2 separate regions of the Homo sapiens genome follow, and region 1 is linked to region 2. A link means that fine-mapping ties the variant in region 2 to the expression of a gene that starts in the linked region. Tissue or cell type: testis. Region 2 holds a variant in brackets; the other region holds the start of a gene. All regions are shown on one strand. Distances are from middle to middle.

The links. PIP is the estimated chance that this variant, and not a neighbour inherited with it, causes the effect.
Region 1: it holds the start of INPP5F, and the variant in region 2 is fine-mapped to the expression of INPP5F in testis (GTEx, PIP above 0.99).

Annotation. Positions count from the first base shown.
Region 1 is chr10:119,721,689-119,728,059 of GRCh38, forward strand. It overlaps INPP5F (inositol polyphosphate-5-phosphatase F), which reads left to right and starts at 4,362. Exons shown (of 20, transcript NM_014937.4): 1 at 4,362-4,671. The coding sequence starts at 4,575. RefSeq lists enhancers at 1-558, 3,361-3,410 and a silencer at 4,021-4,790.
Region 2 is chr10:119,775,602-119,783,419 of GRCh38, forward strand. It overlaps INPP5F (inositol polyphosphate-5-phosphatase F), which reads left to right. Exons shown (of 20, transcript NM_014937.4): 3 at 6,034-6,170. Among named protein-coding and RNA genes, the nearest start is that of INPP5F, 53 kb to the left of the region's middle. The variant C/T (reference allele first, on the strand shown) is at 4,500.

The DNA of each region.
Region 1 (6,371 bases), 55 kb before region 2:
GCTCGCTACAACCTCCACCTCCCAGCCGCCTGCCTTGGCCTCCCAAAGTGCTGAGATTGCAGCCTCTGCCCGGCCGCCACCCCGTCTGGGAAGCGAGGAGTGTCTCTGCCTGGCCGCCCATCGTCTGGGATGTGAGGAGCCCCTCTGCCTGGCTGCCCAGTCTGGAAAGTGAGGGGCGTCTCCGCCCGGCCGCCATCCCATCTAGGAAGTGAGGAGCGCCTCTTCCCAGCCGCCATCACATCTGGGAAGTGAGGAGCGTCTCTGCCCGGCCGCCCATCGTCTGAGATGTGGGGAGCGCCTCTGCCCCGCCGCCCCATCTGGGATGTGAGGAGCGCCTCTGCCCAGCCGCGACCCTGTCTGGGAGGTGAGGAGCGTCTCTGCCCGGCCGCCCCGTCTGAGAAGTGAGGAGACCCTCTGCCTGGCAACCACCCCATCTGAGAAGTGAGGAGCCCCTCCACCGGGCAGCTGCCCCGTCTGAGAAGTGAGGAGCCTCTCCGCCCGGCAGCCACCCCATCTGGGAAGTGAGGAGCGTCTCCGCCCGGCAGCCACCCCGTCCGGGAGGGAGGTGGGGGGGGTCAGCCCCCCGCCCGGCCAGCCGCCCCTTCCGGGAGGGAGGTGGGGGGTCAGCCCCCCGCCCGGCCAGCCGCCCCGTCCGGGAGGGAGGTGGGGGGGTCAGCCCCCCGCCCGGCCAGCCGCCCCGTCGGGGAGGGAGGTGGGGGGATCAGGCCCCTGCCCGGCCAGCCGCCCCGTCCGGGAGGGAGGTGGGGGGGTCAGCCCCCTGCCCGGCCAGCCGCCCCGTCTGGGAGGTGAGGAGCGCCTCTGCCCGGCCGCCCCTACTGGGAAGTGAGGAGCCCCTCTGCCCGGCCACCACCCCGTCTGGGAGGTGTGCCCAACAGCTCATTGAGAACGGGCCAGGATGACAATGGCGGCTTTGTGGAATAGAAGGCGGGAAAGGTGGGGAAAAGATTGAGAAATCGGATGGTTGCCGTGTCTGTGTAGAAAGAAGTAGACATGGGAGACTTTTCATTTTGTTCTGCACTAAGAAAAATTCTTCTGCCTTGGGATCCTGTTGATCTGTGACCTTACCCCCAACCCTGTGCTCTCTGAAACATGTGCTGTGTCCACTCAGGGTTAAATGGATTAAGGGCGGTGCAAGATGTGCTTTGTTAAACAGATGCTTGAAGGCAGCATGCTCGTTAAGAGTCATCACCACTCCCTAATCTCAAGTAATCAGGGACACAAACACTGCGGAAGGCCGCAGGGTCCTCTGCCTAGGAAAACCAGAGACCTTTGTTCACTTGTTTATCTGCTGACCTTCCCTCCACTATTGTCCCATGACCCTGCCAAATCCCCCTCTGTGAGAAACACCCAAGAATTATCAATAAAAAAAAAATTAAAAAACAAAAAACAAAAAACAAAGTTAAGCCACCTGGACTGCTGACCTGCAACATTAGCAGCCTCCAGGCAGGCTGGGGGAGGGGGGAATATATTTATATAAATATAAATCTCTTCTTTTGGGAGATTTCTCATAGACAAGACTGAAGAAAGTTATCACAGACAACAAACAAGACTATGGACAAGTAGACAGAAGACAGGAGATGATGTTAAAGTCAAATCTCACCAGAGGATACCAAAATCTAATCCAAAGATCTCAGAGATATTGAAGGGCTAAATCGATAATCACAGTTGGCTTATTTACCATCATTTGTGTAGGTTTAACTACGTGGACACATTTCCTCACATTGATTTCAGCACTGGAAGGGAACACTTAGTGATCATCTCTTTTCATAAATAAGGACCCTGAGATCAAAAGAGATTGAGTGAACTGACCAAAATCACACAGAACTGGCTAGAACCAAACTCCTTAGTGATTATACTTAAATTAGCATATATATGCCATACACGTAAAAGAAGATATATAATATGTATGATGGTCATCTGTGTTTAAAAAGGAGAGCAGCATCACGTGAACTTTCCATTAAAACCTGGGTGGCATCGGGGCAGGAGGACCTTGAATTAGGAAGCTGGAAGAGGGTGATGAGGCTGGCAAGTTAGCCACAGGCCGAGGATAGGCTAGCCAGGGAGTGGAGAGGCTGCAGTGGCCAAGGTTCAGGAAGTTCATAGCAGAAACAAGGCAAGGCAACTGTGGCAGTAGATTGGGGATGTGACATCTACCAGGGACAGAAAATATGTGCTCTTTTCACTCTGCTCAGCCAGGCTAGAGCTGTGCCTACCCCACAGCATGTGTTTGGAGCCTGAGGGAGACAGCAGTGTGCATTGGGGTCAGATAATTACAGAAGCATCTCCCCTCCATGTTTTCCTCTCTCCTAAAGACTTTGCTTGTTAACTCTGCATTTACAGGTAACCAAGCCCATATGATGGCATTAGTTAATGACTGACTGCTGTTTTTTTCCAAGCTGCTGTCAGGCAGATTTTACTAATTAATTTCACTTAAAATAGTGGTGTTCAAGCCTGACTGCATAGTAAAGTCATCTGGGGAGCTTAGAAAAAATAAACAAACTGATGCCAGAGCCCCACCCCAATTAAATTCTGATTTAATTGGTCTAAGGTCCAAGCATTGATATGTTTGAAAAATTCCCCAGGTGATTCTAATAGGCAGCCAGGGTTGGAACCATGGATCTAAAACATCAGGAAAAGTTTCAATGAACTAATTAATTGTTTTAAAACAGTTACAACAGCATTGTTTTCTTCACATCTGGCAATGTAATTCATAAAACAATAATGAAATAATTTGCAGGATACAATGTCTTCATAGGATTTTCTCATTCTCATTTTTGCTAAGTCAACACATGGCTGAATTAAACAATCAATCTGAAACCGATGGTTCCACTGAAGCTTCTTATAGCTTCATTACCTTCTTTCTCCAAATCACATCACAAAGATTTGATAGAGTAACCACCTCCCTCGACCTTTATGTTGAGGTGTCTGGACAGCACAGAGGCATGGTACTTAGAAAAGATTCCAGGACGCTTTGTTATCATTGGACTTTCTGTGCTATGGAAATTCAACACTGTGGGCTGGAATAACTAGTCATGTGGAACTCCTTCCTGCTTTTGTACCCTCTCACTTTTACTTGAGCAGAAGGTTAAAAGTATTGCTTTCTGAGAAGTCCCATTCGGTCACTCCTCTCTCTCGCAAGAGAGACAGCTGTTCTCCCTTTTCTTTTGCCTATAAACTTCCGCTCCTAAACTAAAAAAAAAAAAAAAAAAAGTATTGCCTTATTTTTCTCATCTCCTACTTCTTGTCTTTTTCTCTTGTTTCCGATTCAGGCATTAGAGAAGGCAAGGAGTTAGGAGTAGGAAGACTCAATGATTTATAGAACTGGGGGTGTCATAAAAGGTCATTAGTTCAACCACCATCTGAGACCAAGAGACTTCCCCAAGATCACACAGCTAGATAGTCCTCGAACTGGCCCCGGAAGTGGGGGCCTCATTCTCCAGACCCATTCTGTTCAGGATATCAACTGGTTTTTCAAGACAGACTGAGCTCAAGGATGTTTGGGGGAGACTCCTCCTTCCCCGAGAGGGTCTCCATTCATCTTATCCTCGCCAAACGATATTCCTTCCGCTTGCTTCATTAACTGGCTCCATTTGTGAAGTCTTCTCCAAACCGCCCTGCTTAATTCGGGACACAGCAGCACCTGTACATTCCTCCCTTCCTCCTCGCTCTTTAGCCGCGTGCTGCTAATGCTTGTGTGTTTTCTATTGTTACATGCTTTCCCTCGTTGATGTGCATTTATTGAATGCCTCCTGTTGTCAAACTTCTAATAGGGAATACGAAAACAGAAGACGCCTCCGCTTGGCTGTGGGCCTGGCTGGGGATGAACCCCTGTAGCCAGGCCCCGGGGTCTCGCCTGGTTTCGGTACGGGCAGGCAGCGCAGGCCCGCGGGGAACGTACCCCGCACCGCTCCGGGAGAGCGGGTGTGGGGTTGGATTCAGGTCTCGGCCTGGCGAAGCGTGAGCGCCTCCCTGCACGGAGGGGAGGCCCCAGCGGTGGGCGCCTGTCCCCAAGGCCGCGCGGAGGGAGGCGGTCAGTCCAGACCGACTCGGCCGAGCTCCCGAGCTGCCACCGGTGACCACGACAGGAAGGCTGGCGCGCCGGGGGAGGGGCCTGGGCAAGAGCGGGAGGGGCGGGCGGAAGGACGAGAGGGAGGAGGAAAGACCCGCGGGGAGGAGCTGGGAGGAGACACCCGGGAGAAGGCGGAGGAAAGGGCAGGAAGCGGGAGGGAGCTGAAAGGAGGAGGAGGCTGAGGGGCGGAGCCGGGCGCTCGGGGAGAGTAGCCAGCAGAGGGGGTGGAGCCGGGCCTGGGGCGGAGCCAGGGAAGGGGAGGAGCGGGGGGGAGAGGCCTCTACGGCCGCCGCTGCCGCCGCCGCTGCCGGGGCGCGTTCTCCTCCTACCGGTCGGGTGCCCCGGGGCGTTCCCTCTGCCGCTGCTTCTCGGCGCGGTTCCTACCCGGCCGCTCCCCGAGGCGCGGGCTCTGGCGGCCTCGACCGACTAGGACGCCCCGTGCGCCGCCCGCGGGCCGCCGCCTCCCTGGGCGCGCGGGGCCAGCATGGAGCTCTTCCAAGCCAAGGACCACTACATCCTGCAGCAGGGCGAGCGCGCGCTGTGGTGCAGCCGCCGCGACGGCGGCCTCCAGCTCCGACCCGGTGAGGCTGGCGGTGCGGGCGGGGGGCACCCCGGGCCAGGGCGGGGAGAGGAGGGGGCGCGGCCGGACCCCTCAGCCGGGCGGGAGGAGCCGCCTGCGGGCCTGGTGAGGCGGGGCGGGGCGGGCTGCGAGCGCGCGAGCTGTCATTATTCCCTGACTGGAAGGAGCCTGGCCTTTCTCCGAGACAGCGCCGAGCCCCTACCCCAGTGCGGAGCAGAAGGGGCTGGCGACCCTCGTCCTTCCCACCGCGTCACGCGGCCGCCCTTGGGGCTTGGGGCCCAGGCCGAGGGGAGGGGGTCCCCTCCGGCAGAAAGTTCCAGCAAGGTGCACCTGGCCGTAAAGGCCTCTTCCTCCTTGGAGTAGTTCTTACATGGCCTTCGCCAGAAGTTCTGGGTTCGAATTCCGATCTGGAGCGGTTGCGCCAGTTCCGTCTAGGGCTCTGCTGGACACTCACTCCCTGTTGCCATCCCGTGTGTTCTTGGTCCCTTATTATTAAAGGTGTGACTTTACTGTGGTTACCTCATAGGCACTCGGTTTAAAGCCTTTGTCTTTGACTTTAATACCACAGCACAATTAAATTGTATTGTAATGTATAATTTTGAGATTTTTGTGTGACTTGATGTTGTGCGACACAAAATGTATTGTGGGTCCATGTTTGGGTGTCATGTAAGCTGTTCGGAGAGGCTTAAGTCTGCAATTAGCTTGCTTTAGGAAAATGTGTGTGCAGTCGTGGTTTAAACAGAGCAGTCCCTGCCCTCAGAGCGCTGACAGTCCAGTTTCTTGTAAGATGGGGCTGGGTGGCACCTGCCCCTTTTGGCTTGCTAATCCTTTCCTCATATCACTCAGAGATTCTTCCACTTTAGGGAAAGCGAGAGGATAGAGTTCTTTAAGGAAGGAGCCAGAGCTTTTCAGACTTACTTGTAATTCTTATGTGCAGTCTAGACAGAAGGATTACATGATATGAATTGAAAAGGATAAAAGGTTCAGATGAGCTTTTCAGATCACAGCGTGGTATCACTTATAGGATGGTTTTTAAGGACAGGCCCTTTAACATATTATTTCCAATCCCCACAGCAACCTTACAGGACACGTGTGGGATCCTCTTTTTCAGGTGAGGAGAAAGGAGTGAGAGGTTATTAGTAACTCGTTCGGGGTCACAGCCTAGAGTTGAGACACTGACACAGGGCAGTTCTGTGACCTCCAGAACACTTTTGGGCAGGCCCCACTGCTTTCTTAGGAAGGCCTACTAGTTGCTTTGCCAGAGCAGTGAAGGATAACTTATTTTTTTCCTCAGGCTCTGTCTATATTTTCTTGCTATTACGTTGTATTTCCTCTTTTCAGAATGGAGGATAAACTCCTTGGCCCAGATAAAGTTCTTGATGATCTCGGGATAGAGTTATTATGGATAGGCTAATTTTGGCCAGTCTTCTGTCATTCTCTTCTCTGATTTGACCATTTGTCTGGCTTTCTCCCCTTCCCTCCTTTCACTCCCCCAAATTTGGGTAAGGCTTCAGTACAGCTTGAAGTAAAGCAGATTTCAAAATTCCTAGGTTGTCAAAAGAGTCAACTCCTTGGATTCTAAAAGCTTAGACTATTAGAACTGGATGGGACTTAAGATCGTCTCCAACTCATCTGACAACAAACTTTTCTACACCCCAGTTTCTTGAACTATAAAGGCTAACCTGCGCCTAGATTCTTGGA
Region 2 (7,818 bases):
CCATGGGGTTTCTTCTTTACTTTCTAGATTTGGAATTCTTTTAAAGACAAGTACAGAGTCATTGGAAAAAAAAAAAGTTGAACATCATAGAAGACTGAGTCATTCATTGATAACTGTTGGGCCTAAGTGGTGGGTGGATTTGGTTTGATTATATTGCTCTCTCTACTTTTATGTATGTTTGAAGATGTCTAAAAGGGAAGTTTAAAAAAAATCCTATCGGCCAGTTGCAAGCCTGGGGCACATTATTTGAATGTTTCTTAGTTTTTCAACTATAGATTGGAAATGGAATCTGTTAGCAGGGTGTAGTGGTATTAAAAATATAGACATAAATTGCCTGGTGATACTTATAGTAGATGTTCAGTAAACATTAATTCTTAGGAATAGCATCATGAATTATACAAATTGTTAATCCTCATAGCCATTCTCTGAAGTAGGCAGCTTTATCCCAGTTTTCATATGAGAAAACTGAGAATTGGAGCAGCTAAGTATTATGCTTTGAAGTATACAAGAAGCAAATGATGGAGCTAAAATTTGAGTCCAATTTCTGACCTCAAAGTCTAGGACACTTGAAGCCTCCTTGAAAAAGGAAGGCTACTATTGACAAAGCTTTGTTTCTGTTACATTATATTTTCTCAGATTTAATCTTCATCATAACTGCAAGGCATATTGAATATCTGTAACCTTTTAAAAAGAAGCACATAGATTTTTCACATTTTTGTATATGAGTAGTTAACTCTAAAAAAATGTGTATTTATTTTAAAATATATTTGAATGTGTAAGTTGAGTTTAAGTATTGGCAATACCATGTTTTTGTGGGAAAAAAGATGCCTCTTGGTTTTCCAGGTGAGTTTGTATATGAGATAAAACCTGTGTTTGAAAGTTAAAAATTTTATATTTTTGGTACTATACCTTTAGATGGTTTATTGGAAAGATACTATATTTGATAATGTACATTGTATTTTTGTTATTGAATTTATTAAAATCATAATTTGTAATGTCGATATGAAATGAATCCAGAGCAAATCAGGGCAAGAAGATGTAAACTAGGAAGGGCCTTCCTCTGTGTGTGTGTGTGTATGTGTGTTTGTGTGTGTGTGTGTGACCCACAGAGAGAGAGAGAAAGAGAGGTCCTTGAGTCATAAAGATTTCTTGTTTATTTTTTTTTTAGAGACATAGTCTTGCTCTGTCATCCAGGCTGGAGTACAGTGATCCAGTCATAGCTCACTGCAGCCTTGAACTCCTGGGCTCAAATGATCCTCCCACCTCAGCCTCCTGAGTAGCTGAGACTACAGGCATGTACCACCATGCCCAGATAACTTGTGTATCTTTTGCAGAGATGGGGTTTCGCCATGTTGCCCAGGCTGGTTTCAAACTTCTGGGCTTAAGCGATCCACCCACCTCAGCTTCCCAGAGTGCTGGGATTTCAGGCATGAGCCACCGCACCTGGCCTCAGCTAATTTTTAAAAACAATTTTTAAAGGGCTGGTGCCTTGCTGTGTTGCCAGGCTGTTTTTGAACTCCTGGCCTTGAGTGATCCTCCCTTCTCAGCCCCCCAAAGTGCTGGGATTACAGGGATGACCCACCATGCCTGGCCCAACTCTAAATTGTTCACTGTAGGATAGAAATGGCCGGGCGCAGTGGTGCACACCTGTAATCCCAAGCAGTTTGAGAGGCCAAGTCGGGCGCATCACAAGGTCAGGAGTTCGAGACCAGCCTGGCCAATATGGTGAAATCCCGTCCCTACTAAAATAACAACAACAAAAAAACCCACAAAAATTAGCCAGGCGTGGTGGCGGGCGCCTGTAGTCCCAGCCACTTGGGAGGCTGAGACAGGAGAACTGCTTAAACCTGGGAGGCAGAGGTTGCAGTAAGCCGAGATTGCGCCACCGCACTGCAGCCTGGCAACAGCACGAGACTCTGTCTCAAAATAAATAAATAAATAAAATAATATAAGTTAGAAATTATTCCTGTGATGTTAAGAGACCTAGTGTAAAGATTTCTTTTTATTCAACAAAATTTATTGACATTGAACAGTTTATTATCTGTTATGTGCTTTTTAAGAAGATTTACATGTTAGGTTTGTTACCAAGCACCTAAAGGGTAATGTTTCACATAACACCTACAAGATGCTTGGTAATGTCCATTCATGCCTGATGAATTTCCTAGCACATGGTAGGTCTTCAGTTAATGTTTAATGATAATAGGGAAATGGCCTATAAAAGCCTTAAAACTTTGGAGTAAATTTCCACCCTACTTTATAAGGAATTATGAAATGTTTCCAAACTTCTGCATTTATGAAACGCTTAAAGCATATCTCCAAAGCACCATTTCTAAAATGAAAGTTGATCAGTACTTGGGGAATAAATGAGGGAAATGAAAATATTATATATCCTTTTTATTTTTATTATTTATTTATTTATTTTTGAGGCAGGGTCTCACTCTCTTGCCCAGGCTGGAGTTCAGTGGTGCCGTCTCGGCTCACTGCAACCTCTGCCTCCCAAGTTCAAGCAATTCTCATGCCTCAGCCTCCCGAGTAGCTGGGATTACATACGTGCACCACCATGCCCGGCTAATTTTTGTTATTTTTAGTAGAGACAGAATTTTGCCATGTTGGCCAGGCTGGTCTTGAACTCCTGGCCTCATGTGATCTGCCCTCCCTGGCCTCCCAAAGTGCTAGGATTATAGGTGTGAGCCACTGCACCCAGCCTATATATCCTTTAAAAAAATTGTTTTATATGGGAAATATATGGTGTTATTTTTCTATAATAAATTCCTGAAACACAATTTCAATAATTTTTGGTTTGGGGTCTAATTGGGGAGTACTTTTTAATGGTGTAGTCTCATAAACTGAAAAATTGATTTGCATGCTGTCTTTCATAGACTATTTTTTGTTTAATTAAAAATCTCTTGTGAGAAGTAGAAATTTGGATTGGAAAGACTGGGTGTTTGCTTCTTTCTGTCTTGTGTTTATTAAAGGTTTCTTTAGGTTGTTTTGCCATTTTCCCTCCATTCTCCTCATTATATTTAGTTCTCTGTTCAATCCTAGTGTACACACAAAGTAGTTGGAGAATTACCAACCCATACTCTTCTGAAAAATAAATTTAGTAACCAGAGTACAGTAGTGCATACGGTTCTTTTTGTCTTTATTTTTACCAAATAGTTTTCTGAAGTTAGTTCAGTTAGTTTTTTCTTCTCTATCTCCTACAGTTTAGTTCTATTCTTAATTTTTAATAGAGTTGGATTTGCAGTTTGAGGTTCTCCCACATTCTGGTTGATTTGAACTATTTATTTTAACGGATATGTGAAACATTACCGTTGTTCTAAGAGTCAGAATTCTACTCAGAGACCAGTCATTTGCCAGGGCATACTCAGAGAATTGTCATTTCCCCTTCATCTCTTTTATCCTATTCCCATCCCCCTCTTCTCTGTACCCCGTTTCCACCTACTCTGTGGAGATAACTAATCTCACTGACTTCTGGTTCTCTCCTCTTCTTGTTTTTGTACAAATGGGTGGATACATATAGTTATGCATCACTTAATGAGAAATGCATTGTTGGGCAATTTCATCTAAACATAGAAATGGTACAGTAAAAATACTGTACAAAAGATATGGTATGAAAGATAAGAATGGTACACCTGTATTGGGCATTTACTATGAATGGAACTTGCGGAACCAGAAGTTGCTCTGGATGAGTCAGTGAGTGAATGTGAAGGCCTAGGACATTATCGTACACTACTATAGACTTTATAAACATCATACATGTAGGCGACACTGACTTTAAAATCTTTTCTTTCTTTTTTAAAAATTTTTTTGGGTTTTTATTTTTATTTTTTTATGAGACGGGATCTTTCCTTGTCACCCAAGCTGGAGTGCAGTGTCATGACCATGGCTTATTGCAGCATCAACCTCCCAGGCTTAAGCGATCCTCCTACCTCAGCCTCCCGAGTAGCTGGGACTACAGGTGCGTGTCCCAACTCCTGGCTAATTCTTTAATTTTTTGTAGAAACGAGGTCTCCATATGTTACCCAGGCTGGTCTTGAAGTCCTGGGCTCAAGCAATCCTCCCACTTTGACCTCTCAAAGTGCTGCAATTACAGGCATGAATGAGCCTCCATGCCCTGCCAGAAGTTCTTTCTTCAATACTAAATTAACCTTAGCTTACTGTAACTTTTCTACTTTATAAACTTTTTAATGTTTTAAAACTTTTTGACTCTTCTGTAATAACACTTAGGTTAAAACACAAACACATTGTACAGCTGTGCAAAAATATTTTCTTTTTACCCTTATTTAACTTTTTTTATAAGTAGGAGTATACCTAAAATAATGGTAAAAAGTACAGTATAGCAAATATGTAAACCAGTAACAGTCATTTATTATTATCAAGTCTTATGTATAGATGTAATTGTATGTTGTATACTTTTCTATCACTAGCAGTGCAGTAGGTTTATACCAGAATCACACAAATGTGAAATGTGTCATGCTACATTTATGATGTCACTA[C/T]GTGATAGGAATTTTTCAGCTCCATGATAATTTTAAGGGGCCATTACTGCATATGTAGCTCATCGTTGACTGAAACATCATTATGTGGTATGTGACTGTATAGATATATATCACCTCATATTTTCTTCCTTACATGAAGGGTAGTACACTCTAGGTATTCTTTTATGCTTTGATTTAATAATATATTTTATTGGCTGGGCACGGTGGCTCATGCCTATAATCCCAGCACTTTGAGAGGCCAAGGCTGGCAGATTGCTTGAGCCCAGCAGTTTGAGACCAGCTGGGGCAACATGGCAAAACCCCATCTCTTAAAAAAAAGTACAAAAATTAGCTGGGCATGGTGGTGTATGCCTGTGTTCCCAGCTACATTAGAGGCTGAGATGGGAGGTTTGCTTGAGCCCAGGAGGCAGAGGCTGCCATGAGCTGAGATTGCACCACTGCACTTTAGCCTGGGTGACAGAGTGAGACCCAGTCTCAAACAAAACAAAACATATATTTATTATGTTATTATAACATAGCCTTATTATGTACAGTCGGCCCTGTGTATCCATTGAGTTCTGTGTCTGTGGATCTAACCAACCACACATGGAAAATTTTTGGAAAAGATGGTTGCATCTGTACTGGACATGTATAGACTTTTCTTTCTCATCATTATTGCTTAAACAATACAGTTTAAAAACTGTTTACCATAGCATTTAGATTATATCAGGTATTGTAAGCAATCTAGAGATTATTTCAAGTATATGAGAGGATGTGCATAGGTTATATACAAATACTACACCATTTTACATGAGAGACTTGAGCATCCGTGGAGTTTGGTATCCACGGGGGGTCCTGGAGCCAGTCCCCTGCAGATACCGAGGGATGGCTGTATGTTAATAATATATTCAGGTTATCTACTAAGTGCATCCAGGAATCCTTCCTTATTAATTCATAGAATACTTTTTTGTTTTTTTACAGCTGCATAGTACTCCATTGCATGGATGTGCCATAGTTTATTCAACCACTGTCCTGTATCTGGACATTAGGCTGTTTCCAGTGTTTATTGTAATTATAAAATAGGCTTCAGTGTATATACTTTGGTTGTTGAGGTGTACCCTCAGGGTAAATTCCCAAAGATGGGATCACTGGACTGATTAAAGGTAAGTGCATTTGTTGTATTGTTAGGTATTGCTAAATTTCCTTCCAGAAAAGTTGTGTTTGTCATCGGTATTCTCACCTGCACAGCTGTTTTGAGTTTTCTCACAGTCTCGCCAGCACATGTGTTGTCATTCTTGTTAATTGTTCCCAATCTGATGGGTGAGCATGGTGTCACAACTGGTTTTAATTTACATTTCTCTAATTATGAGTGAGATTGAACATCTTTTCACATGTTTAAGGGTCATTTTATGTCTTTGTGACATGTTTTACTTTAAAAGTTTATTTTGGATGCACACTTTTTTTTTTGTTATCATTGTTAGGTTATTCACCTTCAACTTGTCAGAACAGTAGCACTCTAAAAACGCCAGACTTTATTATGACTCTCCTCTTTCAGATCTTCCATGGTGGCTTATTCTAATTCGGCAGAAAGCATTGGTGGGCAAACTCCCAGGAGACCATGAGGTCTGTAAAGTTACCAAAATTGCTGTGCTCTCACTTTCTGAAATGGAACCTCAGGATCTTGAGCTAGAGGTAGGTGAAATAAAGGGAAATTATATGGAAACCTGATATAAATGTAATAGCAAATATGAGGATTTGGTTCAGTAGACCAGAAACTTACATTTTTAGAGCTGGGTAATGTTTTTAAAATAATTTAATCCTAAGATTTTCCAACTTAGTAGTGGAACTCTTGTCTCAAAATCCATGAAATCTAGTGTAGAAGACACATAAAGGCAGGGCTGCTGTGGTCGCAGTAGTGTTGGGGGAATCCCTGGGGCTCTGTCCACTTGATCTCTCCTGGGAAGCCACCTTCTGTTTCCAGGGTGCCCTAGGGCTCTGCACAGTACAGTTTGAAAACTTCTTAGGGAAAAGGAGTGAGTTAAGAAAAGGAGAGCTCTTATTATATCCTCTTTTGTCTGCATTTCTTGAAAATTTTCTAAGCATATATTACTCTATTAAAATTTACAAAGAAAGTTTTTTAAAAGGAAGACAGTCACTCATCTAATGTAATCTCTTTATTTTCCAGAGAAGAGCTCAAGTCCACAAGTAGAGTGATTTAAGGATGGAATAATGAGATTGTCTAGGGCTAGTGTTTTTTACCACAAGGTGCTGCCTCCTAGTAGAAGTAACCCATGAAAGCATTTATGTCCTGTTTGCTCTTAGTATGGGAATTAGATGCCTAGTAATTGTCATCACTCCGATTGTTTTGTTCACTATGTGATGTGCCAGGTGGGCCCTGTGTATTACATAGATGATAATATTTAGTCCCCAAGACCCCCCTATGAGGTAGACATTACTACAAATAAAGGAGGCTAGGTGGGTGGCTCCTGTCTTTGACAGGCTGAGGCTGGAGGATTGCTTGAGCTGAGGGGTTCGAGACCAGCCTGGGCAACATAGCCAGACCTTGTCTTGTGGAAAAAAAAAATTAATGAGTGAATGGATTTTAGAAAATAAAATAAAAACAAATAAAGGAGGCCTGGCAAGGGTTAAGTCACACAGCTGGCAGAGGTGGGGCCTGGATCTAGACTCAGGCTGCCTGGTCCTATATAATTCTGCTGAGCTGCCGCCCTGTTACCTGAACATCAGGTAACAGCAAAGCACACACTGCCCCACAACTCAACACATGTTTTTCCATGTAGAGTTCTTGGGGAGGAACTTTGGGGACAGGGTTAAATTGCCTTAAGAATAAGTAAAAATAAAACTATTTTTATGCTTCAAATGTCACTGGAAGTTTGACAATTGAATTTTAAGAAACAAAATGAATTTAAGTGGACTCTGATATTAATTATTTGTTACAGGAATCGAAAAAAGTTTGGAGTTCTTAATTCTCCTTTTATTGGTACTTATGCTAGAACACTATTCACTATTGCTGATCGAGAGACAAAAAACCTAGGTGGCAATTAGGCCTATTAAAAGCAGATGTTTGCAGTTTTTGTCTGCATTTTTTTTGGGTGAAGAGCAGCCAGACTAGCAAAAATTTTGTTAGTTTCCTAAGCCAGTAAATTTGCTGGCAGTGTCTTTTGGATGGTTTTGCTGACACACTGAAAGATCAGGATGGCTTGTTATCACAGACCTTTCCCTTGAGGGTGGGCACCCCTTTGGCCTGGCATTCAGGTTTGAGCACTAAGACTGGGGTCTCTGGCAGTTTGATTTAGAGATGGGAACCAGCCCGCCCAGCACT